Regions from separate parts of the Homo sapiens genome. Here regions 2, 3 and 4 are each linked to region 1. Evidence: fine-mapped expression QTL. A gene starts in region 1. Each other region holds a variant in brackets. All regions are shown on one strand. Distances are from middle to middle.

Region 1 (7,891 bases):
TGAGATACAAACATATTTTTAAAATATTTAAATTTACAAGCAAAGTTTAAAATATATAAAAATATGCCGGGCGCGATGGCTCACGCCTGTAATCCCAGCCCTTTGGGAGGCTGAAGCGGGTGGATCACGAGGTCAGGAGTTCAAGACCAGCCAGGCCAAGATGGTGAAACCTCCGTCTCTACAAAAATACAAAAAAAATTAGCCGGGCATGATGGCGGGGTGCCTGTAATCCCAGCTACTCAGGAGGCTGAGGCGGAAGAATCGCTCGAACCCGGGAGGCGGAGGTTGCAGTGAGCTGAGACCGTGCCATTGCACTCCAGCCTGGGCGACAGAGTGAGACTCCGTCTCAAAAAATAAAAATAAAAAAAAAATAAAAAGGAGTAGGCCTCTACTTCCCAAATGTAAACAAGACATACACATTTTTAAATTAACTGTATTTCCCTCATAAAACAGTTACAAAATACAATTATTTTCAAAGCAAATTTCTCAAAGACCCAGCAAGATGTTCACATCTGAAACAAAGTCTTAGGTAGTGAACACTGACTGCAGGCACCAGGGGGCCTCCCAGGAATAACTTGATAGTAAAGGAAAAGGTAAATAAGAGTTCCTGGTAAAACTTTTGCTTCCTATTCAGTCTTAAGACTGCTGGATGGCTTTCACATCTGGAGCAAATACACAGTATTTAGTTACAGAACAGGTACTCACAGAACTTGGGTTTGAGATACCGACACATACTTTGAGAAAAAGGAATTACCCCTCCCCCATTACAATATTCTTTGATGATTTTCCAAATATAAGTACATACTGCTTCACTCTAGCAATTATCTTAAGGTAATTTGAAAGCAAACAGTACATATGCAATCGCTGGACGGCGGCTAACAAAGAGGCCTCTAAATTGTTTAAAAAGGATTAAAGGCTTTTCTACACACTCACAAAACAATTATTGATGACGAAAACTTTAGGGTAGAGGGACTGTTTGGCAGAAGACTGCATTTAACTTTGAATAATATCCTGCAATGAATCAATACATTTAACTCCCGGCTAGTCCACCTCTTCGTTTTCCCCCCTTGCCTTCCCACCAACATAAAACTATTCAATAAGAACACTTGAGCCCGGAAAGTTCAAATGCTGCGTAGACCTACAAATACCTTTCGAATACAAGACAGGCTTTAAAAATAGATTTTCACTAAGTTTGTGCAGAAATTAAGCTCTGCTCAAATCAAATGCAAAAGCCAATCCCTTCAGCAAACCCATCTACATACATCACATTTCTTAGGTGCATCTTCAACCTGATCAAATATCTTGTCTTACAATTTTTTTAGGCCAAGTAACAAACGGTAGATTAATTCCCGCTAATTTTATCCTCTCTTTAAGAAGAATCCATTCTATATAGCATTGTGTAAAAATGCAGAGCAGACGAAGCAGTCCTGTTAAGGACAGGTTTATATATATATACGTAAAATTCACTCCCGGAACGACAATCGGAGGCAGCCAAGGGCAATGCACAAAGAGAACAGAGAAGAACAGTGATTCCACGGACGCACAAAGCCCAGTGGCAGGCATCCTCTCCCCATCCTCGGGTCACCGGAGGCGAGCACCACGGCGCGCGGAGCCCGGCGGCCTTTCCGAAAGGCTGTCTCCCGCAGACCCGCTCCGCACAGCCTTCGGCCGGCGGGCCTGGCCCCCGAGGGTCCGCGGGAACGGCCCCCTCTCCCCCGATCTCCCCTGACCGCGCTCCCAGAGGCCGCTCCCCCGCGCCCAGAGCCTCCTCGCCCCCTCCTCGGTTCGTCCGCCGCGCCGCGCTCCCAGAGACTCGTCTCGGGGCGGGAAAGGGGTCCCCTCGCGTTCCGGCGGCAGACGGGGACGCAGGGGTCGGCGGCGGTGCCCGACCTCCCTCTGTCCCGCGGCCAGGCGCGCACTCACCCTCCAGCAGCCGGGTGATGAGGCTGTCCACGTTCAGCTCCCCGTCCGCCATCTTGTCGGCACAGACTCTCCTTCCCAGCAGCGGGAACAAGGGCTTCTCGGCGGCGGAGGCTGCGGCGACGGCTCGGCGTTCTCTCACCTACAAGTCACGCGGCGTTTCGACCCCGGCTCCAACTCCCCCTTTTCCCGGGCCCTCCCCCCACCCCCTCCCCGCCGGGTAGCGAGAGCGCGCGCACACTCGGAGGCACCCACGGAAAATAAATAAATAAACAAGAGAGGCCCCCTCGAACAGGGCCGCGTCAGACCCAGGCCGCCACCTCCTCCTCCTCGGCACCGCCCAGCTCCGCAAAGCTCACCAGCGCCGCCGACGGCCCCACCCGCAGCGCCACTCACTCCGCACGTCCCTTGCGCGCCGCCGCGTCACGCAGCTCTCCGCGCAGGCGCGCGGTGCGCTCCCCGCCGAGGCTCCCCTCGACGCCTGGGCCGCCGCGCAACCGCACTGGAGCGGCTTCTCCCGCTGCCGTCTTCGCGCAGGTGCGTCGCCCTCTCTCCACGTCCACGGCGCCGAGTCTCGCCACGGTGGCGCAGGCGCCAGGGAGGTTCCCCGGCTTTGCCGCGCGGAGGAAGTCCCGGTTACGCAGAGCGCGCTGGGGCAGGGCTGACCTTCCCCTTTCTCTACTTCACTGGCCTCCTCCAGACGTGGTGGTTGCGCCCTTTCGGCCTCGCTTTCCGTTTTTTGGCTTCATCCCCTAGATCTGCAAACAGTTCCTCGTGTTTCTTCCGTTAGCCGGGAAACGCGAACTGCAGCGTTTGGGACCCGGGTTTGCGCGTGTGGAAAGCAAAAGGGGTTACTCTGCTGGAGTTCGACATTGCAAATAAAGGTCTTTATCCCCGGCGGTTCTACAAAATTAGTTCTGCAGGGATTCTGGTTGAAAGAAGCGTTAAAGTGGGCCTTGTAGGAGTCAGCAATAATCCAATTTTACATGGGTGCAGGTGGCTGCCTGTGTCTAGCGCTTTCACACATCTCATATCTTCATCCACGCCGTGGGTATTTTTTTTCCACGGTGTGTTTCTGTTGCTGCCTCCAGTATATTGCTTAATCATCCTACCTGGTAATTATTTATGCATTTTTCTCCTACTCTCGACTCAGCTCCTAGGGAATAAAAACACATTAACTTATCTTTGTGCCCACAGCACCCACCAAGTATTTCCATCACGTAATACTGCCTCTAGAAAGGCAGGAGGAGAAGCAGTCACGCTAAGGATCTAGGCAAGCCAGATCTTTTGTCCGGTTTTAGGAGGTGGCCAGCCCTTACTTATTCCACAAGTGTTTTTCCAGAAACTCAGACTTGATATTGCCTCAAGTCCAAGGCAGTGTGCTTCCCCCACTCACATATCACTAATAGTAGCTAACATTTGTTCAGATCCCTGTATGTACTCTGCCACTGTTTTAAATGTTACACCCGGGTTACCTCATTTAATCCTTACAACTGCCCTGTGAGGTAGGTACTATTATTATCTCTACTTTGTAGATGGGATTCACCGAGGCACAGACGGTTAAAAAACCTAGCCCAAATAACACAAATAAACAGCAGAGCATGCAGTGCTAGAGTCTGCATTCTTAACAATTGCTATATTCTCCCTCTCCGTGAATGTGGGCTGAGATGCTGAAACAGGCATGTGCTGTGGGGGAGAAAAAGCTTTGTCCAACCAAGTGCTTTCTAATGTCCAGATGACATAGAGCTAGGATTTCCTAATGTCTTTTTTCCCCTATTTTTCTCTCCATTTCAGGGTTGAGTTTGTGCATCGATTGTGAACACAACAGGCAGCAGGCTATAATGGTGGTCCTGGCTGGAGTAGTTTTCACAGACTTCAGTAATCTGTGGAGATGAACGGGCAGTTCTCTGTAGTTTTCACAGATCACTGCCAGTTCGTTTTGAGGCCTTCAGGAGTGAAGACCTGGCTCATCATCACTCTTTGTTGTTTTGTTAAATTTATTTACACCCTACTTTATTCCAGAGGAAAGGATTTAACGTAGTTTACATAAATGTGTACATCAGGGTAAATTAAAAATAAGTACAGAGAAAAATAGGACAAAAGAAAACCGTGAGTGTGAAAGATAAGATTAAGCCAGCAGTTTTGTATGCAAAATGCATGGTGTAAGGTCCTATTGGTTTGCTGGAGGTAGGCCACACATATGACTCTCAGTTTTCTAGCAACCAAGAAAAAGATCAGTTGCAATCGGAGTAGGTGTTTTGGCTAAGCTGGAACTAGGACTTGAATATAGCAGCTTGTAGAGTTATACCACTTGCCCAAATCTCTTCCATGAGCCTCTTTAAGTGTAACAGAATGCCTGGGAGCACGTAAATGCTCCTACTTAGATGCCTACTTAGCCTCTAATTTTCATGGGGCCCATGAATCCCATGAAAAAGAACTTTGAACCCTGTCCACAATTAGAGTTCAGGTATACGCAGACATGTTTAAAGACAAGGGACACCCAAAGGAAAGATTGCACAGAGAGAAAGTGAGCATCCGAGAGAAAATCACCACAAGTGAGGCAGAGGGAGGCCGGTCTCAGCAGAGTTTTGGAGGTCGTGAGAAGAAGAGGTAGGAGATAGGAGAGTGGTTCCGAGTACTTGCCTGCTGATGTTACCTTCTCCACCCCCACCAGGTTTTCCAGTGCCTGGAGTCTTGGGCAGGAATGGGCCACTGTAAGAAAGAGCTTTATCACTAGGGCCTCAGCCAACTTTTCTGTGGGATATCCCTCCAAAATAATTAAGAGTTCAGAATGCTTCAGATTTTGAAGTGAAACTGGTACATATATTAAGTGTTACTTAATAACCCGATAGTTTCTAGGGCAGCTCACCATAATCCCAAGTATTAGCCACCACCCTCACCCCCTTCAGAGTAAAATGTGTTTCCTGAAGGAAGTTGGGAAAATGAAGAAAAAAAATACAAAAATCACCTATAATCTTACCAGTCATAGATGGCAGTTTTCCTGTCTTATTTCTGAATAATGGTTGTTAAACATTTGCCAGCACACCATAAGGCTTAGGGAGGCATCTGGGTCATGCATGTTAATATCCTTGGGTAATTCCAGAAATCTCTATGAAGGGAAACTCCTGTTATTTATCTAGACTTCCTGATTGCAAGGGGTTTGGGCATCATGATTTAGGGGTCTTAATAAAATTATTATTTTATTTTTACTAATAGATAATGTCTGTGCCTATCAGATAAAGGCAAACCAGTGCTCAGAGGAACCCAACCATCTCTGAATTGAGACCAGAGAGCTGTCTCTATGGATAGTCCTTAGAGAAGGCATTTCGGAACACAGTAAACAGCAGCCTGGTGACTCCGGTTAGTAAACGCAGCAAAGACTTTCATAGGGATGTTTTTCTTATATGCCTGTCAGTATTAGCCAGTAGCCAATCTGGTGTGAAAGTGAGTAAGTTTAGGTAGCAAAATGTGGAGGGGGTGATATATAGTTTTTTGCTGCTCTGGCTTAATCCAAGATGACTTTTAAATGAATGAATCAACATTCATTGGGCTGTCCTTCCATAAATATGATTCTTCTCAATCAAGTGTTTAATAAGTCTTAAGTAGTGGTAAGTTGAAATTTTACTAGTTGTATCTGGAGGTCAGCCATTCTTTATATCGCATGCATTAAGCTTTTATAGTCAGCTCAATTCAAGAAAATTGGAAAACCAGACAAGGACATATATGCATCATTAGGAGGCCACCTCTCTCAATACAGAGCCAGGCCTAGGTGGTACAGCCAGGCAGGGCCAAGATTTGTTCTTAAGATTTAGTTTTGGTTTCATTTCATTATACATATGAGAATAGCCAAAATTATAGCTAAGCCATAAGGCATGTCCTCAGCCAGTTTAGTCCCCCAGAATTATAAGGCAAATATAAATAAATGCCTCCTTCCCTGCCCTTGGTCAGTAACCTCCCCGGTGGCCCCAACCAACTCTCTCTTCTCTCTCTCTCAGTTTGTCTTAAGCTAACTCCATAGTACATCCGTATCTTTCAAGATAAAGTGATTGAAAAATAAATGTCTAGTAATTGAAGGAGTTAACTGGCTATTTAGAACTGTTAACTATAAGGCAATTAAAGCTAGGTGAACAGCTACCACAAGTAATGACTATTTAATTGTTGAAGAGTTTATCTGTGGCCTTTTTTTCTTGTAATTAGATTACAGGGCCAGTTGCCTTTGTTACAATAAAAGCAAGTCATCTACACAGGTAAGAATGTTTCTCTTTTATTGCTCCCCCCTCCCCCCATCCTGCTCACTGAAATGGATACCAGGAAATAACTGTTTGATGAGGGAAAGTATACAATATGTGAATATTTGTTTCAAATGAAACAGTGTACTGTAAATGTTTTGTTTCTTGTTGCTCTGTTTCTCCTGTAGTATATCCAAATCACATATAATTCACCTTTTCAGTTGGAGGTTTACCGCTAAATGGCTTAATTTTTTTTCTTTTTTTGAGACAGAGCCTCACTCAGGCTGGAATACAGTGGCTCATTCACAGCTAACTGCAGCTTTGACATCTCAGGCTCAAGCAATCCTTCTGCCTCAGCCTCCGTAGTAGCTGAGACCATAGGCATGTGCCACCATGCCCGGCTATTTTTTTTTATTTTTAGTAGAGACAGGGTCTCGCTGTGTCAGGCTGGTCTCGAACTCCTGGGCTCAAGCAATCCTCCCACCTCGGCCTCCCAAAGTGCTGGGATTACAGGCATGAGCCACCGCACCTGGCCCTAACTGGTTTTTATGTCTCTGTTTCAATTGGGTTTTGGTAGATAAGACAAGGAAAGCATTACTTTTTTTATGTAGTTATAAAATGAGTAGCTTCTCATAATATATAAGACCACATTAAAATTAATAGCATATGTCTGTTAAAACTAAAGCCAAACTATTTGTGAGCTGTGAAATATATTCATCAGAGTTACATCCAACACCAATAGGTCTTTTATATAGGAAACACTGGTTAAATAGAATATTTATTAATTATTATTTAAATCTTGATTTAAACCAAATCCAGTCTATCATAATAAGTTCTTAATTGAAATGCTCTATGGTACTTGTTATTTAAGAAAACCTTACAGTGAATAGACCTCTGAAGCAAAAAGAATAATGAACCAATTAAGTATTTATGAAACACTTAGTGAGTTTGAGTCTGTGTTGAAGAAGGCATGACTTCCCAACTTTCAAGTTGTTTAATGACTATGTGGGAAAATGACCACAAAATGACTTGGATAGTGGGAAAAGCATTGGCTTGGAGGTGGGAGAACAAAGCAGCTGAATAACCTTAGACAATTCAATCTTTCTGAACCTTGGATTCATTACCTACAAAATGTGCCCATTAATAAATGATTTCCAAAGCTTCTTCTAGCTCAAACAAGTCTCTGATTCTAAGACATACAAATAAAACCCAAAATGTAACATAATATTGTACATGCCGTCCCCAGCTCAGGAACTGGACCAACTCCAAAGGGTCAATTGTTCGGAACATGGAATATATTTTCCCACAGAGACTGTGGTACAAATGGTGGTTAAACTCTCAGATCAGTCTGCAAAATCAATTTAGTCCTTAATGTAACTATAGAAGAGTGTCCATGGCAATATAGACTCTAGCCACCAATTATAACAGAGTTTATGGGGAATATTTATTGAGGATTCCTATTTGGCATGGCAGAAAACATCTCTCAGTGTTTTCTACTACCCTGAGCAATAGACGTGAAGACAAGTCTAGTTCCAATTTACAGACAGACCTGGACCCTATATGGGAGACAAAGGCTGGGCTGGCAGCATAGAGGGCAAGGGATGCTCTGATACCTTTGAATCCTTGGGGGGCGGGGGGGAGTGGGGGCAGGGCATGGTGGGCTGAGCACAGTTCATGACATCTTGGGGTTTGGTTGCCAGGAAGGAGCTGGCTCCCAAACCAAAGGATAGGGAATGTGAAGG
Region 2 (7,891 bases), 270 kb after region 1:
TACCACAATAATAATGTTTAAAACCACCGTTTGTGAATCAGACATGCCTTCTACCATAGAGCCCTAATCTAAGAGCTATTGTCAAAGATTTCCCTGAATACTGACAAGGCAGACACACCCCTTGAATTCAGAATCTCCCAGAGGCCTATAATCCAGGCTTGCCAAATGATATGGTTTGCCTGTGTCCCCACCCAAATCTCATCTTGAATTGTAGCTCCCATAATTCCCATGTGTTGTGGGAGGGGCCTGGTGGGAGATAACTGAATCATGGTGTGGTTTCCCCCATACTGTTCTTATGATAGTGAATAAGTTTCACGAGATCTGATGGTTTCATACAAGGAAACCCCTTTCACTTGGTTCTCATTCTCTCTTGCCAGCTGCCATGCAAGACTTGCCTTTCACCTTCCACCACGATTGTGAAGCCTCCCCAGCCACGTGGAACTATGAGTCCATTAAACTTCCTTTTCTTTCTAAATCACCCAGTCTTGGGTATGTCTTTATCAGCAGCATGAAGACTGACTAATACACCAGATTTCTGCCAATGAATTCACACATTGGTCAGAACATCATGTAGGGTCCCCCAGTTCCCATTGCTTTCTTTCCATGTCCTGGCCAAAAGTCACAGCCACACCTTGACTGCTCTATGACACAGCCAGCTGCAGGTTTTCCCAGCAGGCTTGAACCCAAACTTTGGCCTTGAACATTTCCAGGCACTGATGAAGGTATCTAGCTTGTTGCCTAAAACACTGAAAGAAACTGGCCCCAGCCTTAAGCCAAATTCCTTAAATCTTCGTATAAACTCCCATACTCAGACTGCCTGGCTAGTGCTTCTTTCTCGGGAATTCCAGCCAGCCCCATCTTGGGATGGTTTGGGGGCATTCCCCACCCTCCCACCTTTGGTTGCTTCTCATTATCAAGCAGGACTCATCTAAGCCCCTCTTGAGCAATGAGACAGGCACACAGGATTCTGCAACGTTCCTGTTTTTTGGTTTTTTGTTTGTTTTTGAGATGGAGTCTCTTTCCGTTGTCGCCAGGCTGGAGTGCAGTGGCACGATCTCGGCTCACTGCAACCTCTGCCTCCTGGGTTCAAGCGATTCTCCTGCCTCAGCCTCCTGAGTAGCTGGGATTACAGGTCAGGTGCACATCACCATGGCTCGGTTAATTTTTGTATTTTTAGTAGAGACAGGGTTTTGTCATATTGGCCAGGCTGGTCTTGAACTCCTGACCTCAGGTGATCCACCCACCTCAGCCTCCCAAAGAGCTGGGATTACAGGCGTGAACCACCGTACCCGGCCAATGTTCCTGTTCTTTAAACAATACATTGTGCTTTGAAATACTGGGAACTATTTCATTGTCCATCATCAGAGAGTGTCCTAATAAGCTGTGGAATAGCCACACTATAGGATACACAGGAATGAAGAAGAATGAGGTGGAGCCACACAGATTCACAAAGCTTTTCAGGATTATTAGGTTGGTGCATAAGTAATTGCAGCATTACTTTAATGGCAAAAAAAACTGCAATTACTTTTGCACCAACCTAATATAATGTTGAGTGAAAAAACTAAGAAGCTGACAGGTAAGAACAGTGAGATACCAATCAAATACTATATTTTTCTATGGGAAACTACATATGCATGTGTGTATGTGTGTGTGCATATGTAATACATATAGAAGAAAAGGCTTATAAGGATATTAAAAAGTCATATAAGTGGTTACCAGGTTACCTCTGCTTGGGGATTGGCGGTCTAAAGGTCTTTAGCCTTATTAAAGTTGTCTATACAGGCTGGGCTCAGTGGCTTACGCCTGTAATCCCAGCACTTTGGGAGGTCAAGGCGGGTGGATCAGCTGAGGTCAGGAGTTCAAGACAAGCCTGGCCAACATGGTGAAATCCCGCCTCTACTAAAAATACAAAAATTAGCCGGGCGTGGTGGCGGGTGCCTGTAATCCCAGCTACTCGGGAGGATGAGGCATGAGAATTGCTTGAACCTGAGAGGCGCAGGTAGCAGTGAGCTGAGATTGTGCCACGGCACTCCAGCCTGGGCAACAAGAGTGGGATTCCATCTCAAAAAAAAAAAAGTTGTCTATACATATTTTGCTTCAAGGATGTATTCCAGTACTGCTTGAATAACTAGACATTTTTTAAGGAGGTAAGAGAACAGTTGGAACTTTCTAGGTGATTGGGTGATATATTGACTTGGCTGACATCCCAATTCTGCTATTTATACTATGAATCATTTGCCCTGTGGGGGGCTTCAGTTTTCTCATTGCTAAAATGGGAATAATATCCTTCCCCCAGTATTTTTGAATATCTCAATGAGATGATGTAAGACCCTTCGCAGGGCCAAAGTGCCATGTAAATATCAGCTTAGTGTCCTCTCTACGGCTCCCATTGGCCCCTCTTCCTTCTCAACAACTTCTATTGACTCCTGTCCTGCTCTGAACTCTCTCCTGGACTTGCCTAACTCTCCTGCCCTCACTTTTTTACACCTCCTTGCCTTTTATGATGTTCATGAAATAGAAGGATAAAAGTAACTCTTCCTGTTGTCTGGGCAGAGCCCCTAAAGTCCTAGAGCAATTCAGAAGGTGCCAAACACACTGTTTCCTAAGTTGGGATGCAGGACCACTGTGCTACTTGAGTAAGGGTCTGTGAAATCAATCATGCCATCCTCAGTCTATCACCCACCTCCAACTCTTTGGGAGACTGAAGGGGCATGGGGCACATGGTGAGGATTTCTCTGAAGGGAAGTGATCAATGGGCTGTAGGGGATATCAAAGAATGTGTCAGGCATCCCCTGAAATTTGAGGAACACAGGAACGGATTGACCGACCCACCCTTGAAAAAGCCCCTGTGTGAGAGGGAGTGGCTGGGTAAAGAGGGGCTGTCTTAGAAGAGCCTGTGCCTCCAGGGTTTAGGGGAGCAGGGATGGGCGTGGGGGCCAGATACAGAACCTGCAGAAGCAGACTCAGAAGGGGTGAGGTGAGGGCTGATGGGAG[C/T]CTGAGAGATCTTATGTGGCCAGGCCAAGGAGGCAGCCACGTCTGTTGACTGAAGCCTCAGCAATTCGAGAGGCTTCAGAGCAACCACAGACTCCTAGGGCAGAACTAACTCTGCAATCTGCCATGTCCAAGGGCACTAATGCCAGATACAGCTGCAAAAGGTCAAGCTAGCCCTTCCTGGCCTCCCTCTGCTTTCTTCCTGTCTCCTCCACCCCTGGAGCAGCCTGGGGAGAAAAGGTGAACAGAGAAGTAAGAGAAGGAGACAGTTCTCTGCCCTTGCAGCTTCCCCAGCCTGAATGGGCTTGGCAGAGACATTTTCAATGGAACAGAGCTTGAGGTTTGACATCACATGGGGCTAGATATTTTATTACATGAGAGTGGTCAGAAAAGGATGGGAGCTGCCTGGGGTTTTTCTGCGGGGCAGAATGGGTCCGAAGAATGGTTTGCTGGAGAGGATAAGGTGCTTTCTGCTTCTGTCATGTGCCCAGCTTGTTTGGGAAGGTGGTCACCTGTGTTTCCTATCTGCCTACATAGATGAATATCCTAGGTTTCAACAGACATGACTGAGCCTCCACCAGGCATTAAGCCTGGGGCCTCTCTCTATCTCTTTTGGTTTCATGCTGCAGCCCAGCTTGTCTGATCTGAAACTTTCCCTTGCCCCATTTTAAGATTTGAGAATGCATGTGTCATGAAAGCTTCTCATCAGAGGCCTGGATCCTCCAGGTACCAGACCCCATGTATCCAGGTGGATCCCACTTAGGAACCCAGGCAGCCCAAGGGCTTCTGAAATAGCAACACCTGATAGCATGTCCGCTGGGGGCTCAGGGACCCTGTCCCAGCCATGCTGGGCACAGCGCAGAGGAGAAGCCTTCTCCTCTCCTTGAGCCTCTCAGTTGCTTCTGCCAGTTAGACCCCACCTGCTAAAAGACCTCAAGGCTCCCTATAATTGTCCAAGTCAGCAGATGTCTTAAAAACGATGTGCCTCAGTCCCAAGTGTGTAGTAGTGATTTACAGAGAACATAGGGCCACTCACCTTGCAATAAATCCTCAAGGTGGACTCTCCTTTCCTGCAGGCCTCTCCCCTCCTCCTTTCTCATATGGGTGGCAAATAAAACAATTCTTTCCCCAATTCAAGGCCCAGTCCTCAATCAGCATTTCTTCCCTTCCCCTGTGGCCATCACCTCCCTGGAGCCTTGTGTTCCAGGCCCTCTCGCCTCCCTCTCACTGACCCCTGGTGCTCCAGGTGCCCAAACCTTACCCGGCACTCAAGGACAATATGCACCTCCCCTGCAAAACTCAGTGACCTGAACCCAGAGGCATCCTCCCTGAGAGGAGCCTGAGGTCAACACATGTTTACTGTGCCACTTCCATATGCCAGGTGTGCCCACTGACCTCAAAGAACTTATATTCTATATGCCAGGCGTGGCCACTGACCTCATGGAACTTGTATTCCATACGCCAGGTATGGCCACTGACCTCATGGCTGGGGCAGGGTCTCTGAAGGGACATGCTATCAGGTGTTGCTATTTCTGTTTGTTTTGTTTTTTTTTTGTTTTTGTTTATTTATTTATTTATTTATTTATTTATTTTTTGAGATAAAGTCTCGCTCTTGTCTCCCAGGCTGGAGTGCAATGGCATGATCTCGGCTCACTGCAACCTCCACCTCCTGGGTTGGAGCAATTCTCCTGCCTCAGTTTCCCAAGTAGCTGGGATTACAGGCGCCTGCCACCACGCCCGGCTACTTTTTTTTTTGTATTTTTAGTAGAGACAGGGTTTCACCATGTTGGCCAGGCTGGTCTCGAACTCCTGACCTCAGGTGATCCACCCGCCTCAGCCTCCCAAAGTGCTGGGATTACAGGCGTGAGTCACCATGCCAGGCCAGGTGTTGTTATTTCAGAAGCCCTGGGCTGCCTGGGCTCCCAGGTGGGATCCGCCTGGATACATGGGGTCTGGTACCTGAAGGATCTGGGCCTCTGATGAGAAGCTTTCATGACACATGCATTCTCAAATCTTAAAATGGGGCAAAGGAAAGTTTCTATATTCTAAGCACTGTAGAGAGGCATTCATCAAAGAATTTCACAAATGAATATAAAATGATAATATGGAAACATACCAGCAGGTGCCTCTCCTAGGCTCTTTGCACAGCTCTGTGATTAGTAGGATCTTGGGGAATTCCAGGAAAGACCAGGTGGCTGTAATGCAGAATGAAGGGAGCTTGAGGCAGGAGAGGTCAGCAGGAGCCCCCTAGGCCTTGGTAACATCTGGGCCTTTATTCTAAGAGGAAGAAGAGGCTGGTAAAGGGTTGTAAGTGGGAAAGTGACAGGACCTGCTTCATGTTTTCAAAAGCTGACAGATAGCTGCATGGAGAAGGGAAGGCTGGGAGATAAGGACAGAGCCAGGAGCCCAGTCAGGAGGCTGTCACTCTCCAAGCCAGAGCTGAAGGAGGCTCATGGTGGTGGAGAAGGAGGAAGGTGGTGGGAGGTGAGGCCAGCTGGACTTCCGGGGTTGAGTGGGGACTTAGGGAACTTCCCTGTCTCACAAGAGGATTGTAAAATGCACCAATCAGCACTCCATAAAATGCACCAATCAGCGCTCTGTAAAACACACCAATCAGCACTTTGCAGCTAAAGCACCAGTTTGGGGCCAATAAGGGAAAGGATTCTAAAAGTAGCCAATCACGGGGAGGATTGAAAAAAGGCACTCTGATAGGACAGAAATGGAACATAGGAGGGGACAATAAGGGAATAAAAGCTGGCCACCCCAGCCAGCAGCAGCAACCCACTTGGGTCCCCTTCCATGCTGTGGAAGCTTTGTTCTTTCACTCTTCACAATAAACCTTGCTACCGCTCACTCTTTGGGTCTGTGCCATCTTTAAGAGCTGTAACACTCACTGCGAAGGTCCCCGGCTTCATTCTTGAAGTCGGCCAGACCACGAACCCACCAGCAGGAACCAATTCCAGACACAGTGGGTAAGGAGATGTTCAGGAAGTGAAACTGATGGATGATGTGTGTAGGTAACGAAAGATCTCTGACCTTTGCACTGGAATGGATGCACTTCATTCCCTGCATAGGGATCACTGGGCATGGGAATTTTGGAAGAATGCAGAGGGAAATCATCAATGCAGATGTGGACACAAGCAGCATGCAGTGCCTTTAGGACACACACTCAAGAGATGCCGGAGGGGCAGGTAGACCCATGGATCAGAAACTCAGATGAGAACTCTGGGCCAGAGTGGCTAAGAGTCAGATGCAGTCACTCAAGCTGTGGCAGCAGAGCCTGCTAGGAGAGAGAACAAGGGGGAAGGGAAGGGCCTGGGGAACTCTTAATGATATTTAATAGCTGGGCAGATAAGAAAAAATCCTACAGTGCAGACAGAGGAAAAACTGATTGGAGAAGTAAAAGGTTTGTGTCAGGGAGAGAAGTATGTTTTTAAAATAGAGAATACTGCTGAAAAGTCAAGGATATGAGGCCTGGAAAATTGGGTTTTCTCAATAAATAAAAATAAAATAAAAATTGCTGACCTTAGTGGGATCCCTAGAGCCTCAGCTCAGTGTCCCTGGGCACCTATTTCCAATCTGGAATTTTTTTTTTTAAGAGACAGAGTCTCACTCTGTCATCCAGGCTGGAGTGCAGTGGCACCATCAACGCACTGCAGCCTTGAGCCTGGGCTCAAGTGATTCTCCCGCCTCAGCCTCCAGCGTAACTGGTACTACAGGCACACACCATCATGCCTGGCTAATTAAAAAAAATTTTTTTTTTTTAGAGATGGGCTCTTGCTATGTTTTGCTCAAGCTGGTCTTGAACTCCTGGTCTCATGTGACCCTCCCACCTTGGCCTCCCAAAGTGCTGGGATTATAGGCATGAGCCAATGTGCCCAGCCACCACTCTGGTGTGTCTGGAATTGGTGGGTTCTTGGTCTCACTGACTTCAGGAATGAAGCCGCGGACCCTCGCGGTGAGTGTTACAGTTCTTAAAGGCGGCGTGTCCGGAGTTTGTTCCTTCTGATGTTCGGATGTGTTCGGAGTTTCTTCCTTCTGGTGGGTTCATGGTCTCGCTGACTCAGGAGTGAAGCTGCAGACCTTTGCGGTGAGTGTTACAGCTCTTAAGGCAGCATGTCTGGAGTTGTTCCTTCCTCCCAGTGGCTTCGTCGTCTTGCTGGCTTCAGGAGTGAAGCTGCAGACCTTCACGGTGAGTGTTACAGCTCATAAAGGCAGTGTGGACCCAAAGAGTGAGCAGTAGCAAGATTTATTGCAAAGAGCGAAAGAACAAAGCTTCCACAGTGTGGAAGGGGACCCCAGCAGGTTGCCACTGCTGGGTTGGGCAGCCTGCTTTTATTCTCTTATCTGGCCCCACCCACATCCTGCTGATTGGTCCATTTTACAGAGAGCTGATTGGTCTGTTTTGACAGGGTGCTGATTGGTGCATTTACAATCCCTGAGCTAGACACAAAAGTTCTCCACGGTCCCCACTAGATTAGCCAGATACAGAGTGTCAATTCGTGTATTTACAAACCCTGAGCTAGACACAGAGTGCTGATTGGTGCATTTACAAACCTTGAGCTAGATACAGAGTGCTGATTGGTGCCTTCACAATCCCTTAACTAGACATAAAGGTTCTCCAAGTCCCCACCAGATTAACTAGATACAGAGTGCTGATTGGCGCATTCACAAACCCTGAGCTAGACACAGGGTGCTGATTGGTGTGTTTACAAACCTTGAGCTAGATATAGAGTGCTGATTGGTGTATTTACAATCCCTTAGCTAGACATAAAGATTCTCCAAGTCCCCACCAGACTCAGGAGCCCAGCTGGCTTCACCCAGTGGATCCTGCACTGGGGCCGCAGGTGGAGCTGCCTGCCAGTCCCGCGCCATGTGCCCACACTCCTCAGCCCTTGGG
Region 3 (7,891 bases), 100 kb before region 1:
TTTATTTTACCACACACAAAAATAGTTTTTTAAAAAAGTTCAAATCATGTCAATCTTTAAAATTCTTCAGTGGCTTCTCAATTGAGTAAAGCTAAAGCCTGCATGATTCTATGTAATCTGTGTCCACCACCTTCGATGTCATCTCTTACCACTTGCCCCCTTTTATCTCCACTGCAGTGACAGTGGCCTCAACAGACTCCCCAAGTAGCCTACTACCTGAGTGTTTGTATTAAATATTTGCTGTTCCCTCCACCAGGAGCTCACTTCTCCCCTACATTTTCATGGGTTAAACTTAATTTTATTTTCTTCAGGTCTCTTCACTGACCAGTCTATGTATAAAATGACACCTCCTTTCCCTGACCTGTCCCTTTCTTTCCCTCTTTCTCTGCTTATTTTGTTTGTTTTGAGATAGGGTCTTATCCTGTCACCCAGGCTGGAGTGCAGTGACACAATCACAGCTCACTGCAGCCTTGATTTCTCAAGCCCAGGTGATCCTCCCTCCTCAGCCTCCCAAGTGGCTGGAACCACAGGAGCATGCCACCACGCCTGGCAGTTTTTTTTTTTTTTTTTTTTTTTTTTTTTTTTTGAGACGGAGTCTCGCTCTGTCGCCCAGGCTGGAATGCAGTGGCCTGATCTCTGCTCACTGCAACTCCGCCTCCTGGGTTCAAGCTATTCTCCTGCCTCAGCCTCCTAAGTAGCTGGGATTACAGGTGTGCACCACTGTACCTGGCTAATTTTTGTATTTTTAGTAGAAACGGGGTTTCGCCGTGTTGGCCAGGCTGGTCTTGAACTCGTGACCTCAGGTGATCCGCTCACCTCGGCCTCGCAAAGTGCTGGGATTACAGGCATGAGCCACTGCACCCTGCCATTTTTTTTATTTTTATAAATGCGGGGTCTCACTGTGTTGCCCATGCTGGTCTGGAACTCCTGGCTCAAGCAATCCTCCTCCCTTGGCTTCCCAAAGTGCTGGCATTACAGGCATGAGTTACCACGCCTATTCTGCTTTATAACTGTTTTTCTTCATGTCACTCACCACCCTCTGTCCTATTTATTTATATGTTTTCTTATTTTTGTTTAATGTCTACCCCTTCATTAGATCCCGTGAAACAGACTATAAGCTCCAACTATATCCTTACCACTTAGAAAAATGTTTGCCATGTAGACAGTGCTTAATAAATATTTGGTGAATAAATTAATAAGATGTCCCTTGACTGATTAGTACTGTTTTTAAAAGACACAAACAATCTAATATTTTATCATTTAGTAAATAGATATGCCAGCATATCTCTAAGCTTTCTGGAGTTAATACAACAGTAAATGTTACTTTATTTTCTATTTTGACCAGATTTATTTTTTGTTTTTAATTAATTTTTTATTTGAAAAATTTTCACTTATCTTTGTACTTACTGGCATCTTCTGTGACTATAGCCATGTATACTGCAATTGAAACAAGAATAAAGAGGAAATAAGGGATATGATTTTTTTTTTTGAGACAGAATCTCACTCTGTCACCCAGGCTTGAGTGCAGTGGTTTAATCTTGGCTTACTGCAACCTCTGCCTCCCGGGTTCAAGTAATTGTCCTGCCTCAGCCTTCCCAGTAGCTGGGACTATAGGTGTGCACCACCACACCTGGCTAATTTTTGTATTTTCAGTAGAGACAGGGTTTTGCCATGTTGGCCAGGCTACTCTCAAACTCCTGACCTCAGGTGATCCACCCGCCTGGGCTCCCAAAGTGCTGGGATTATAGGCGTGAGCCACTGCCTCTGGCCAACAATGTGAATTTCTGTTGCCAAAGCTGAAATAAAGCATTTAAATTTATAAGTTTTGGCAATAGAAATTCACATTGTCAGCCAGGTGCAGCGGTTCACATCTGTAATCCCAGCATTTTGGGAGGCCGAGGCGGGCAGATCGCTTGAATCCAGGAGTTCAAGACCAGCCTGGGCAACATGGCAAAACCTGTATCTACATAATATACAAAAAGTTAGCTGAGAATGGTGGCGCCTGCCTGTAGTCTCAGCTACTCGAGAGGCTGAGGTGGGAGGGTTGCTTGAGTTCAGGAGGTGGAAGTTGCAGCGAGGTGACATTGTGCCACTGTACTCCAGCCTGGTCAACAGAGCGAGACCCTGTCTCAAAAAAAAAAAAAGGAAATTCACATTGTCTCAAATGTTTAAATTTTTCATGTTGTAATGGCGTGTTTTACACTTGGCAATATTGATAATACAGGCATACAGGAATCTTTCTTTGGTTATATTCATATATACATACATAGCCAAATCAATATTTCCATATTAATATGCAAAGTACAAGACATATCATTATGATTTTTCAGTATCATCAAGTACTATGACAAATTGTTTTTTCTTCCCTGAGACAGGATCTCACTCTTGCCCAGGGTGGAGTATGATGGCACAGTCATAGGTCACTACAGCCTCGAACTCCTAGGCTCCAGTGACCCTCCCACCTCAGCTTCCTGAATAGCTGGTACTACGGGCTTGTGCCACTGCATCCAGCTACTTTTTTTTTTTTTCAATAGAGTCAGAGTCTCGCTATGTTGCCTGGGCTGTTCTCAAACTCGGCCTCAAATGGATCCTCTTGCCTCAGCCTCCCAAAGTGTTGGGATTACAGGCAGAAGCCACATTGCCCAACTGTATAATAATTAACATACCCTTTTGGGAGTGGTAAAATGATAGTTAATAATACTACCTTCTAAAAAATGAAATACTTTGATTGCTGTCCAAAAGTGTGTCATTTCACCACAATAAGAAAACTTATGCTTTATTTAAACGGAATCAGACTGATCCAGTTCTCTTTTTCCCCCACACAGGTAGCTTTGGATATGTTAAATCCTCATGTTACTTTGCCTGTTTTTTACCCACATCTTAAGCATGGTGGTGTATGTGCTGTATATGTAGTAAAGTGAGTAATATAACTGTTTTTCTTTGTAATGTAACTTTTAAGTGCACTTTTGCTTAAGTATCAAACTAAATTTTTTTTTTTTTTTTTTTTTTTTTGAGACAGAAAAAAACTCTGTCACCCAGGTTGGAGTGTAGTGGTATGATCTCAGCTCACTGCAACCTCCACCTCCCCTGTTCAAGCAATTATCCTGCCTCAGCCTCCCAAGTAGCTGGGGTTACAGGCGCCCGCCACCACGCCCGGCTGATTTTTTCTATTTTTGGTAGAGAAGGGGTTTCACCATGTTGGCCAGGCTGGTCTTGAACTCCTGACTTCAGGTGATCTGCTCACCTGGTCTCCCAAGGTGCTGGGCTTACAGGCTTGAGCCACCACGCCCAGCCAAAATATTCATTTTGTAACTGAATAAAGTGTATATGGCATCTTATACAACTGTTTTAAAATGACAAGTCCCAAGTTCATTTATATTACTGTATATTTATTTAGTGTTTTTTTTTTTTAAACTTTTTTCGTTTTTTTTTTTTTTTTTTTTTTTGAGACAGAGTCTCGCTTTGTCACCCAGGCTGGGGTGCAGTGTCATGATCTCAGCTCGCTGCAACCTCCGCCTCCTGGGTTCAAGTGATTCTCCTGCCTCAGCCTCCTGAGTAGCTGGGATTACAGGTATGCGCCACCACACCCGGCTAATTTTTGTATTTTAGTGGAGACAGGGTTTCACCATGTTGGCCAGGCTGGTCTGGAACTCCTGACCTCAAGTGATCTGCCCCCCTCAGCCTCCCAAAGTGCTGGGATTACAGGCGTGACCCACGCCCAACCCTATATTACTGTTTAAATCATTTTTTACATAAATAGTAATATAAGATGCATATTTTCTTCTGACAATCTGGAAGAAATGTTTTAAAAGTATAATGTGAACAGTAATGTTAAATTATGGTCTCTGTGTTTGTTTACTTAGAATTTTGTGAAGGTACTTTTTATGCCTCCTAACTTGCATATTTAAACCCTCTCCTGCCTTAATTTAACTATGGTATTTAAATGTGGGCAAGAGGTATAGGGAACTTAAATAAATATAATGTTATTATTTTAGTAGAAATGTAAATTTTTCACTTTTCTGAAAGCATCACACAGGTTATTGAACTTTTAGATGGAATTCGCACCTGTGAACTTGCTCTTTCATGTGAAAAGATAAGCGAGGTCATTGTCAGAGATTGGTTGGTTTGCCTTGCAAAACAGAAAAATGGAATTTTAGCTCAAAAAGTAGAATCTAAAATCAACACAGATGTACAACTAGATTCTCAAGAGAAAATTGGAGTTAAAGGTGAGCTGTTTCAAGAGGATGACCATGGTGAGCTTCAGTTTTACTTTATGCATGCAGTAATGAATGGAGAATGAGTTCCTGAGTATACTGACCAATAGATTATAAAAATATTCCTCAGCAATTTTCTATAGAAAAGTGTGATATTTATTCTGTTAAGATGTATAAGGCACAGAATAATGACTTTTCCTGCCTTTTACTTAAAACTCTGATACCTTTGAAGAATTGAGCTTTTTATAATATTCATATTTTACTTGTCACAAGGAGCTTGGTTTGTGAAATAATTTAAATGTATTAAGGATGTTTTATATTTAGATCACTGATTATTAATGGGACCTGATAGGCAAATAGCTAATATTCCAAAAAGCAACTTCTAAGATGCTGCTGGAATTCTTGAAAGAACTGAGTTTAGGTCTTTGTCATATATACACATTATTTAGGCCATGAACAAGTTTTCAAGTATCAGTTGATTTATGATATAGGCTTATCCATTTGGTTATAAAATCATATGTTTATTACATAATCATTGACAAATAGTTTCTGTATAATAACTGGCAGAGTAGCTCTAAAACATATGCAAGGAAATAAATAAAGAAAAAACTTACAATAAAGAGAGTAACTCATATTTTAACAGTTTTGTGAAAAAAATAGAAAATATTTTATGTAGCTTATAGTA[C/T]ATATATTTTTTTACAACAGAAGAATCGCATTCTGATTTTCCATATGGATCATTTCCCTATGTTGCTAGACCAGTACACTGGCAACCTGGTCATACAGGTGAGTAATGTTTTCAGAACATATTAAATGGTGTTTTTTCTTTTAATTAATATAATGACTTTATGTTTTTCTTCTCTTAAATTAGCTTTTCTTGTCAAGTTGAGGAAGGTCAAACCACAACTTAACTGAGTACTCCAGATGACAGTAACTGACTTGAAGATGGAAAAATATCAAAATAGAACTTTATATTGAAAATCACTGCTTCCATAGATTGGCATTTTTAGCTATTACTATGACTTATATAACTTATACATATAATTTTGAAAATAACAACTAAAAGATGTATAACATAGCAAAACTGCTTAAACATCCCATTTTGACACTTGTCTTGCAGTTAGTTTGACATTTTGTAGTTAATGATTCCAAATTGGTTTAGTTGGGCCATCTCATTCTTCACTTCCTGTAAACCACTCCATAGATTTGTCTTTCTTCAAGAAATTAGTTTTCTTTCCTTTATTTGATTGATGGTCATTGACTACTGAAATAAAATATGCATTTTAAGATAAATTTTATGTATCTGTCCATTTTAAATACATCTTATAATGGCTTGTATATGTCTTAAAAAATAATAAGGAAATCTGGGCTACAGTAAATAATGGGGGGAAACTTAAGAATGATATAATCACCTTAAAAATTGTAACAAAAGATGTAACAGGCTCTTGAATCTCTTTTATCCCCTCAGAATCTTTTTAACCAGCTTGAAAGAACATTAGAATTATTCAGTGTTACTACACAAATTAAATGTTTGGGGGCTGGGCACAGTGGCTCACGCCTTTGGGAGGCCAAGGCAGGCAGATCACCTGAGGTCAGGAGTTCGAGACTAGTCTGGCCAACATGGCAAAACCTTGTCTCTACTAAAAATACAAAAATTAGCTGGTTGTGGTGGCGGGCACCTGTAATCCCAGCTACTTGGGAAGCTGAGGCAGGAGAATCGCTTAAACCTGGAAGGCGAAGGTTGCAGTGAGCTGCGACTGTGCCACTGCACTCCAGCCTGGGTGACAGGGCGAGACTCCATCTTAAAAAAAAAATGTTTGGGGAATACATTTTGGAAACATGAATTAATTACAAATGGGACTTATTATTCATAGGCACCAGTTATTTAGCACTTACCACATACCATACATTGTTTTGAAAACTTTATATATGTTTTTCACTTACTATGGACAACTTATCTTTCAGGTTATCCATATTTTACAGATAAACAGTGACTTAGAATGATTAGGTCTCTGTTTAAATATAGATGTTTTATAGGTTTTTAGTTGTGTGTGTGTGTTTTTTTTTTTGAGACAGATTCTCATTCTGTCACATAGGCTGGAGTGCAGTGGCGTGATCATGGCTCATTGCAGCCTCAATCTCCCAGGATCAAGCAAGCCTCCCACCTCAGCTTCCCATGTAGTTGGACTACAGGCACATGCCACCACGCCCAGCCAATTTTTGTGGATTTTTTGGTAGAGACGGGGTTTGTCATGTTGCCCAGGCTGGTCTCAAACTCCGAAGCTCAAGCAGTCCTTCTGCCTTGACCTCCCAAAGTGCTGGGATTATAGGTGTGGAGCCACCATGCCCGGCCTGTTTTATGGGCTGTAAAATAGTAATGCCTTGGAGGGTAAATGCTACCATTCCTAGATTTATCTCTTAGGCTAGAAGTATTTAAAATTATACATGTGTGTAAATTTTTTATTAAATAACATATTATAGAACGTAGGACATTTTAAAGTAAAATCTCTGCCTTTTTAGAGTTTATAGTCTATGATAGAGCTTGACATTAATCACACAGATGTAAAACTAAAACTGTTATAAATTCCCCCCAAAGAAGTACAAGGTACTATGAGTAACCATAATGGGGGACTTTGCCCTAGCAAGTGACAATTGAGCTGAGAACTGAATGCTAAGTAGGAATTAACTACAGCAGGGAAAATGGGAATAAAAAGTGATGCTGGGGTAGAGTGGAAAAGACTGGATAGATAGATGGGGATGAGGCCATGCAAGTTCTCATATGCCCGTGAAGGAATTGGTGTATCCTAAGAAAAATGGGATTCCATTGAAGAATTTAAGTAAGGGGTGACATGTTTAGATCTGTGTTTTGAAAATCACTCTGGCTGCATTTAGACAAGTGATTGAATCAGGAGCAGAGTATTCTGGTGGTATATTTCTGTATGTAACTAGCTGAACATTTATATAATAATGATGCCTTTATAGCTTTTATAACATTTCCAGATACAGTTATACATTGCTTAACAGTGGCAGTACATTCTGTTAAATGCATAGTTGGGCAGTTTCATCATTGTGTGAACATTACATAGTGTACTTACACAAACCTAGGTGGTATAGCCTACTACACACCTAGGTTATATGGTATAGCCTACTACTTCTAGACTGCAAACCTGGATAGCATGTTACTGTACTAACTACCATTCGCATTTATAAGACAATGGTAAGTATGTGTGTATCTAAACATAGAAAAGGTACTGTGTTGCAGTACAGGTCTATGATGTCAGTAGGTGATAGGAATTTTTCAGCTCCATTATAATCTTTCCTTCCATCCTTCTTCTTTTCTTTTCTTTTTCTTTTTCTTTTTTTTTTTTGAGACAGAGTCTTGCTCTGTTGCCCAGGCTGGAGTGCAGTGACACGATCTTGGCTCACTGCAACCTCCAACTCCCAGGTTCAAGCAATTCCCCGGTCTCAGCCTCCCGAGTACCTGTGATTACAGGTATGTGCCATCACGCCCGGCTAATTTTTGTATTTTTTTAAGAGACAGGGTTTCACCATGTTAGCCAGGCTGGTCACAAACTCCTGACCTTAAGTGATCCATCCACCTGCCTCGGCCTCCCACAGTTCTAGGATTACAGGTGTGAGCCACCATGCCCAGCCATTATAATCTTAGGGGAACACCATCC
Region 4 (7,891 bases), 150 kb after region 1:
TGACAGGGCTCTCCCTGACCCAGTGCTTAGGCTCCAACTCAGTACTCAATACACGTTTGTTGAAAGAAAGAGCAAATGATGGCTGCTTTTGTTATGTAATGGAAGGGGAGTGGACAGTTTGGAAAGGGCCCTCCATGGCTGATATTCAGTATGGCTATAGGGTTGGTAAAATATTGACATATCTACAATATGGCTATTTCTGAGTCCCCAAATGCCCCCACTATCCACGGTCCCTGGCTGCTCCCCTAGAACCCCCAGGCATCCTTAGGAAAGCAGTTAAAGAGTTTACACCTGGCACAGTAGGGGCCTCTAAGGTTTTGCTCCAGGCCTTTGGCCAGCACCTGACCACCTGGACTAGAGGCATCTGTGTTGCACTAGCTGTTGCAGAATCTGACAATCTCCTTAGCTCCAAGCACAAGACCCAGCAACTGAGCCCTCTGCTACGACTGTCTTCACTTCCCATCCCTTCTTCCTGCCATTCTTGCTCTCCTGATGGGGCTGATGGCACACAAGACTGAGCCTGAGCCCAAGACTGGGGTAGGGCAGGCAGCAGACAGGGAGCAGGCATGTGAACAGGGGTGCCCACTCTCTCAGGATTCCCAGCAGACACATGGGGGAGCTGCAGGTCCATTCCCCAGCAGGGAGGGTGGGAGAGGGTGGTGTGGCCGACCTAGGAGGGAAACCCAGCCTCCCAGATTGGGTCAGGCCTTCTGCTTTTATTGCTGCTGAGGGTTTTCTGGCCTTGGCCTTATTTGGTTAAAAAGCCATAAGACCGGGCCTAGAAACAGGAGCTGAAGACAATGAGAACCTGCCCCCACCCCAGGCCTGAAGTCAAGCTTAACAACCACTTACGGATTCCTCCTTAAAAGGAGCCTGGAGCTGCCGTGTCCTGGTAGGCCCACCCTCGTCCCTCCTCCATACAGCTCTGGGCTCTGCCCTTTGCTGCTGTCCTCTGTGATCCTTTCCTTGTGGAATCTCCCTAATCCAGGCTCTCCTCTCTCCAACCACAGCTCTTAAGCCTGCCTGGCTCCTGCCTGGGCCCTCTAACCTGCAGTCAGATTTTTTCATCTGCCCCAAACACCACTGCTAAGAGAAGCCCTCCTGCCATTTTCCTGGCATCCTGATTTCCTCTCTCAGGAGCCCACTTTTCTCACCGGGATCCTCTCCCTCTGCTGGGGCCCAGGCCTCCTCTCCCTGCTGCATCTCCTGTTCCCAATGACAGCTGCACTCTTGTCTCCCCTCTCACCTCCCCTGTCCATCCTCATGGACTCCCCTCCATCCTCCAAATCTCTCAGGCCTCAGTAAGGGGGCAAGATGGGTACTGAGGAAGCTGTGGTGGAGGACGAAGTGGGTAGGGCGAGCTGTGTGCCCTGGTTTGTGGAGAGGAGCCAGGCAGGTCCTCCCCTACTACCTGAGTGGGACAGGTGATGGGCATCTCTGCTCTCAGGTCCAGGGTCTCTGTTTTGCTTCCAAGTGGTTCAAGCTGATCAGGGAAGAAAAGAGAGACACGGGTGTAGTAGTTTGTTTCCATGGAAGTGAACATTCCCTGGCAGAATCCTGCAGTGGGGAAAGCTCAGAACTCGATTTCAGGGGGCTTGGCTCCCACTTCTGGCTCTGCCAGTTGCCAGCCGTGGGGTTTTGGGCCAGTCGCTTTGCTTCTCTGGGAGTAGCTTCCTTGGAGACTCGTCATGCTTCTCTAGCAGGGATATGCAGAGCCTTAAATGAGATAACGTGGCTTAAACTGCCTAACATGGTGGCCGGCACATAGGGAAAGTGGAATGAATATGGGGTTTTGGGCTTGCATTTCTGTAGAGAGGTCCCTCCTCAGAGTTCAAAGCTCTGAGGAGAGGGTGCAGTTGAGCCCAGGCTGAGCAGACTCTTAAGGACTCCGCATTTCCAACTGCATAGACGTTTATAGATGTACCAGCCACTGCCCCCTCAGCCTCACTTGCAAGACTCCATTCTATAGGGGCTGGTGCCCTGCCCTAGACTAGAACCCCAGAGAACAAGGAACACCCCACTTATTTTACCATATTGGTCCAAAGGGCTCTGGCCAGCTGGGAGTGGAATTTCTGATTTGGGTGGATGCAGTCTGGGGCAAAGAAGGACGTATCTGGGAGCCCATCCTGAAAGAGACCAATATACCCCCTCAAGATCCTATTGGTTCAGAGGGAGCCACCACCAGCGGACTTGGCCCTGGGACTGACCACTCAACACCTTCCTTCCCCTGGAGTGCTCCAGGTCACCAGCCACCACAGGGCCCATTCACCTTAACAGAGAGATCAGAGCGATCCCACAAAGAATAGTTTTGGGTGACGCCAACCCCCAACCTTCCTTTTTGACCCTACAAGTGCCCCTTATTCAATTAGAAGTGTCGTATTTATTTTTGGGCACATTCATGTAATGCCCGAGGCCATGCCACAGATGAAGGAGTGGGATCCTGGTCCCGCAGAGAGTCTTAGCCCAGCCAGCTGGGAAAAGCTACTTCCCAGCTTTTGGTCTGCTGGTCCTGGTAGTCTTGGTGGGGAGAATGGAACAAAGCCTTGGGGAAGGCCTGGGTAGTTGGGTCCCCTGACTCCAGCCTCTTCATCTGGAGGTGCTGGGGGTGCATAGAGCTGCTCTCCTTCCTGCTTTCCAGTTAGGTGAGGCTCTTGGGATGGCAGCCCAGGGGGACAGACCTCAGTCCTCACCTGGTCCACTCACAGATCTCTTCTGTTCAGAGTGGAAGTGCCAGGCAAAGGGCATGGCCTGGGTGGAAACAGAGAACCCCCAGAATGCTCCCTTATAACCGCAGCGTTGCACACGAGAGAGACCACGTGCGTGGCAGAAAACTAGTCATCTGGAGCTGGCTGTGTTCATGTTGGCCTCCCTGTCCCTTATTTCCTAAATGATCTTAGGAAGGACGCTTCACATCTCTGCACCTGTGTTCCATGCGGATGATCACACTCATTTCCAAAGGCAGATGTGACAGTTTTATCTATGGGAAGCACAGTGCCTGGCACTAGTAGGTGCTCAACACAATGGAGGCTGTTACAGGGGTCATGGGAGCCTCGCACATACGGATGTGGCTCAGGCGTTCAGGGAGCCTGCACCTGCCAGCACAGCGTCTGGAGAGCTGTGTCTTTCCCATTTTATGCACATGCTCGTGGAAGCAACTGGCAATTCTGCCTTGCATTTCTTCCTCTAAAAGAGTACCATGGGTGAGGGCAGGGGACATACCGCCAGGACAGGGAGCTGGATGTTCTGGAAGAAGGGCTGCAGCACCACAGAGAAGTCCTCCTGCGTGTCATAGCGGCCTGACCCCACCAGCTCGCGCATGCTGCTCTGGGGACACATGCACAGGGTCTTCAGCCCAGGCCCTGGGTGGGCCCAGGACCCAGTGAGGCAAGAGTAGGGGTGGTGGGCAGTCCATCTCCCTGGATGGAGGGGCCGACTCAGCCTTTCCCTTGAGAACACAAATCACCTGAGGGCAAGTCCCTTTCCAGAGAATTTGGAAACAGGTTGGGTCACCTTTTTGTTTTGATTGTAAGTAGACTACTCTCTCTGAAGGGCTAGGCAGGAAGTCCCAAAAGGGATAAAAACCTGGGAAGAACCTCCAGAGGCTCGGCACCTGCCTTTGGAGTGGGAGTGGGGGAGGGAAAGGTGGTCTCATGAGGCATCCAGGGCTACGGGCCAGGAGTTGGGGTTAAGCCCTCAACGGTAGCTGGGCCATGAGGGCTTTTCCACCTGGATCCTACTGGGATGATTCCAACCAGGGCACCTGAGACACCACAGTCACGTGAGACAGAGGAAGGCACCCAGGCTGCTCCCCGTCTCCCCACAATCCCTGACCAGCTTTTCCTTCCCTGTGTGCCTCCTCTAGGGGCTCTGGGCTGTGTGTTAGAGTGAACGTAGGGGAGAGGACACAGCATGGTGCCCTTCTTGGTCTTACCCGGTAGGCTCGGCTGAAGGCCTCCAGCCTGGCTAGCTCTTGGGAGTTCTCCCGCAGGGTCAGAACGCAGTTACACAAAACGCTGCACAAAGAGGGGGAGGCAGGAGGCCCCAGAGCTCAGGCTTCCATCAGGGGCTGGTTCTGATTGCCCAGGTTCAGGGGAGGGGTGGAGAGGCTCCCTCCCGCCCTGGTTTAGGAGCACTCAAGCCTTGAGGCTCTGGCGCACATGCTCAGGGGCAGGCTTCAGGCCTGGCAGGGGCACTGGAGATGGCCCGAGGGAGGGAGCCAGTGTGGGAATGAGCACCCTCTCATACCAACAGAGCACAAGTGTTGGACTGCAGGTGCTGGGCCTGCAACCGATTATTCAGCTGAGCAAATGAATTTGGGCAGTGAAAATTTAGTGTTTAATTAAAAAGAAAATGCATCCTCTGGTGTTGGAGCTGATATTTTGGGGCCTCTGATGCTATGCCTTAGACCTCTCCTTCTTTCACATGAGTGCCCTACTGTGTCCCCTTTGGTTTCATCATGAATTATTTCACACCCATCACATCTACTTAAG[A/C]GAGAGATTTCTAAAGCACTTGAAACAATGCCTGGTACACAGGAAGTTCTGTAAGATTTGCTGAGTAAATAGATGTGTAAGATATAAAGAATAATAAAACACACATCCATGTACTTATGGCCCAGTTTAAGAAACAAAACACTCCCAGTTTGAAGCTCCCTGTGTCCCTCCTAATTCTCTTCTTCCCCTAAAGGTAACTGAGTTGCTTGTACCTTTTCCTTGCTTTCTGTTACAGTTTGACCACATATGTCTACTTCCCTAACCACTGCCCATGTTCACAGTCTAGGCTATCCTGTCTCTCAAACACCAGCCTCTGTCCCAACTTTGATCCCTCCCCTCTGTGGCTGCCTGGTATCATAGAAGTTCCTGCCAGGCACCTTGAAGTTGGGTAACAGGGGAGTCATGGCTCCAGCCTCTGGAAGGGGACGTTCTGGCAGAAGTCCTCCTTTACAGACTTGGACACATGGATAGACCAAGTCACAAAGACCCTGAGGCATCACCACTGCATGTGGGCCAGACCAGGAGGTGAGGGCATCTCCAGTGTGGGGACAGCCAGGACCTGCCTACCTGGCCTGCTGCACTGGGCACTTGTCTGGGTTTCCCAGGAACACCTGCCGCATGATAGTGGGGTTCAGGAAGTCCACGAGGTTGACCAGGACTCTGGGCACCTAAGGGAAAAGCTGCAGATGAGAGGGGGGCTCCAGGCACTTCTTCCTGGGGCTGTCTCAGGGCCCCTAGGAATGGGTTCCTTTAGCAATCCAGCTTGGTCTTTCTGGAGTTGAGTTCTGGGGAGGAGTCTATACAGGGCTACCTCGTAGGGCCTTACAGGCCGTACATCACACAACTCCATGGGTGCCACCCAAAGGGGCTGCAGCGGCAATGGCACCTCCTGGAGTGGGACAATAAAGACTAAGAGATCATCTCTGTTTAGCCATCATGTAGCAAGCCCAGATACATTAGAATTACCTTCGGTGAGATAGGCAACCTCTTCCCTCCAGCCCAAACTGGCCTAACTCTGCTGAGTAGGCACGCAGACTCAACCCCCACAGGGGAGCATCTGGTGGTCAGAGTGCCCTGTCTCACGCAGCCAGGGCAGCTTGTCCTTGCCAGAAGATGGTGGTGGTGGAGGGGGAATGTGCTGCTGGGTGCAGGACCAGACAGGGGCTTGCTCTAGACACACCCTGTGGCTCAGAAGGCAGTGCCCAGCCTGGGGGCCACCTGGCTGCCACCACCAGAAAATGTCCCGGATAGTAGTGGGGAGACATTAGACAATTCCACCAAGGAGTGTCCCATGTAGTGGTGAGGGAACAGCCTTCCCTCCTTCAGACCTGAGGCCCTTCTGGGCTGATTCCATATAAAATAAGGTTTCCTTGGGGTTAGACCCCAACCTCTGAAAAGGGAAGGAGTCCATGCCCCTGGCTGTCTCCTTGAGAGAAAGGGGTTCTTCTCTCATTCTTTCCCCCCATCCACCTTCACCCTCACCATGCTTGAGCTGTTACCAGCTTGTGGAAGCCCCCCACCCACCTCTCTATGCAGGACGTCCAAGGCATTGCGGAGATGGTGAACAAAGTTGGCTGCAGAATACAGATTCTAGAAAGAGACAGGAAGGAGGAAAAGGAGGAACTGGTTAGGGTGGGAGGGCAGTGGGGCAGTTCTCAACTTCCCTTCTGGCTCCAGCCCTGAGGACTTGTTCCCCCTCTAGCCTCCAGCTGTGGCCAGCTCACCATGTCAAAATCTGAGATGAACAGTTGACTACTTGCTGTTGTCAAAGATGGGCCAGTGGGAAGACTGGAACCTTCAGCCAGAGCTTTGGTTCAGGAGCAGAAAGTGGAGACTCCTCCTTCCAATTGCTTGCTACAGTTTCCTCTTTCTGAATTCTCAGGAGTTATAAGAGAGAGGAGTAGAAATACCATATATCTGCCACCTGCTACCTCACCACCTAGGACATGGAGATGGTGCCAAGGACCTGGAGGGTGGTGGGGTAAGAAGTGTGTGTGTGTGTGTGTGTGTGTGTGTGTGGTATGTGTATATGTGCAGACATAGGTGTAGGTGGATAATCCTAGGATTGGTTTTAGGAACTGTTCTCAGGGAAGATCTCCAACGCCTACTGGGCAAAGTTAGGAACAACAAGTAGGCCTGGACCTGGCCCCAATTACCGAATCTGTGCAGTAGTCACATAAATCGCTGCCTCCGATCAGCACTGTGATGACCTTCCAGTCTTCATGGAAATTTACTCTCTATATGGAGGGAGGAAAATGCTTGATAATTTCCAACAAGGAAATGAAAATATCCCTGCCCTAGGAAATCCATTCAACCCTCTATAACATCCTTGCCCACTTGAAATAATGGAATCAGCATCTCTGAACTGAAGGAATTTTAGAGGTTTATTTATAGACCACAGACTCTTAGCATCAGGAGGGATTTTCAGTGTCGCTGTACCCAGCAACAAAGCTCTCTCCATTGACATACCCTCCTCCACAGGACCTCTGTCAGGGGGCTGTCCGACCACTGCTTGAATGCCTCTAATAACATGGGGCTCACTGCTTTTCAGAGCAGGCCACTCCGTTTGGAGACAACTTTAGTGGGTTAGAAAATTAATGTTTAGAAATAACAGTAAATCTGACTCACATGATCATCTTTCATCTTCTGCATCAGAGTTTGGACTTGGCTCATAAGATCCCTGAGAAAGAGAGAAAACCCATCCTTCTGTTGAGGAACAGTGCCCATAGTTTTCCTCCTAGAGGGCCTGAACCAGAGGCTTCTACAGTATCATCCCCACTGCATGAGCTGGCAGAGATCCCGAGGCTCAGAAACCAGGAGTGACTTGCCTCTTCTGGAAAGTTATTACAACAGATAATCATTTGAAAAGCCAATGATGTGTTTGTCCTACAGCTGTAGTCAAAGTACTGCCAATTATATTTGTTGCTCATGGTCACCTTTCTGGGACTCCACATGCAAAAGGGCCTTTAGGATTCCATGCTAAGAGACCATTCATCTCCTTTGGAAGACTAGTTTAGATCCTAAAATTAGACCTATGAAACTTCTAGCATGCTTCCTCTTTTCACTCTGGCTGCCAGGAAGCTGAGTTTGATGCTCAAACATAATAACCGTAAAAATGTTCATATCGACACACAGGCTTCCTCTTTATTTCCTCCAATGGCTGCGATTTTTCTCTTACGTATATTCTTTTGTTTGTAAACTTATCTAAATGGTTCTTTCAAAAAGAGGTAGGGAATCATATGTGCTCTACACATGCTTGGGTTTATAATTTATGGAAGGTGGCAGGCCTGGTGGCTCACGCCTGTAATCCCAGCACTTTGGGAGGCTGAGGTGGGTGGATTGCTTGAGTCCAGGAGGTTGAGACCAACCTGGGCAACATGGTAAAACCCCATCTCTACAAA

The links. PIP is the estimated chance that this variant, and not a neighbour inherited with it, causes the effect. A credible set is the group of variants that fine-mapping cannot tell apart.
Region 2: its variant is the best candidate, but not a certain one, in a credible set for the expression of PPP1CB in whole blood (TOPMed, PIP 0.75).
Region 3: its variant is the best candidate, but not a certain one, in a credible set for the expression of PPP1CB in whole blood (TOPMed, PIP 0.63).
Region 4: its variant is the best candidate, but not a certain one, in a credible set for the expression of PPP1CB in whole blood (INTERVAL, PIP 0.71).

What each region holds. Positions count from the first base shown.
Region 1 is chr2:28,746,209-28,754,099 of GRCh38, reverse strand. It overlaps PPP1CB (protein phosphatase 1 catalytic subunit beta), which reads right to left and starts at 2,270. Exons shown (of 8, transcript NM_002709.3): 1 at 1,924-2,270. The coding sequence starts at 1,975. PPP1CB-DT (PPP1CB divergent transcript) reads left to right here and starts at 2,344. Exons shown (of 5, transcript XR_007086259.1): 1 at 2,344-2,457; 2 at 3,715-5,280; 3 at 6,118-6,167. RefSeq lists silencers at 1,618-1,837, 2,328-2,517 and enhancers at 1,700-2,344, 2,648-2,857, 5,769-5,848.
Region 2 is chr2:28,472,996-28,480,886 of GRCh38, reverse strand. No RefSeq gene overlaps it. Among named protein-coding and RNA genes, the nearest start is that of PLB1, 19 kb to the left of the region's middle. RefSeq lists an enhancer at 3,625-3,674. The variant C/T (reference allele first, on the strand shown) is at 2,995.
Region 3 is chr2:28,847,434-28,855,324 of GRCh38, reverse strand. It overlaps SPDYA (speedy/RINGO cell cycle regulator family member A), which reads right to left. Exons shown (of 8, transcript NM_182756.4): 8 at 4,715-5,475. The coding sequence ends at 5,384. TRMT61B (tRNA methyltransferase 61B) reads left to right here. Exons shown (of 7, transcript NM_017910.4): 4 at 2,826-2,917; 5 at 4,027-4,253; 6 at 4,920-4,997; 7 at 5,083-5,504. The coding sequence ends at 5,126. Among named protein-coding and RNA genes, the nearest start is that of TRMT61B, 19 kb to the left of the region's middle. The variant C/T (reference allele first, on the strand shown) is at 4,900.
Region 4 is chr2:28,600,088-28,607,978 of GRCh38, reverse strand. PLB1 (phospholipase B1) reads right to left here. Exons shown (of 58, transcript NM_153021.5): 36 at 7,119-7,170; 37 at 6,647-6,727; 38 at 6,015-6,080; 39 at 5,058-5,158; 40 at 3,932-4,013; 41 at 3,220-3,324; 42 at 2,031-2,126; 43 at 1,412-1,483. Among named protein-coding and RNA genes, the nearest start is that of PLB1, 110 kb to the right of the region's middle. RefSeq lists enhancers at 1-439, 440-1,070, 1,071-1,702 and a silencer at 426-593. The variant A/C (reference allele first, on the strand shown) is at 4,491.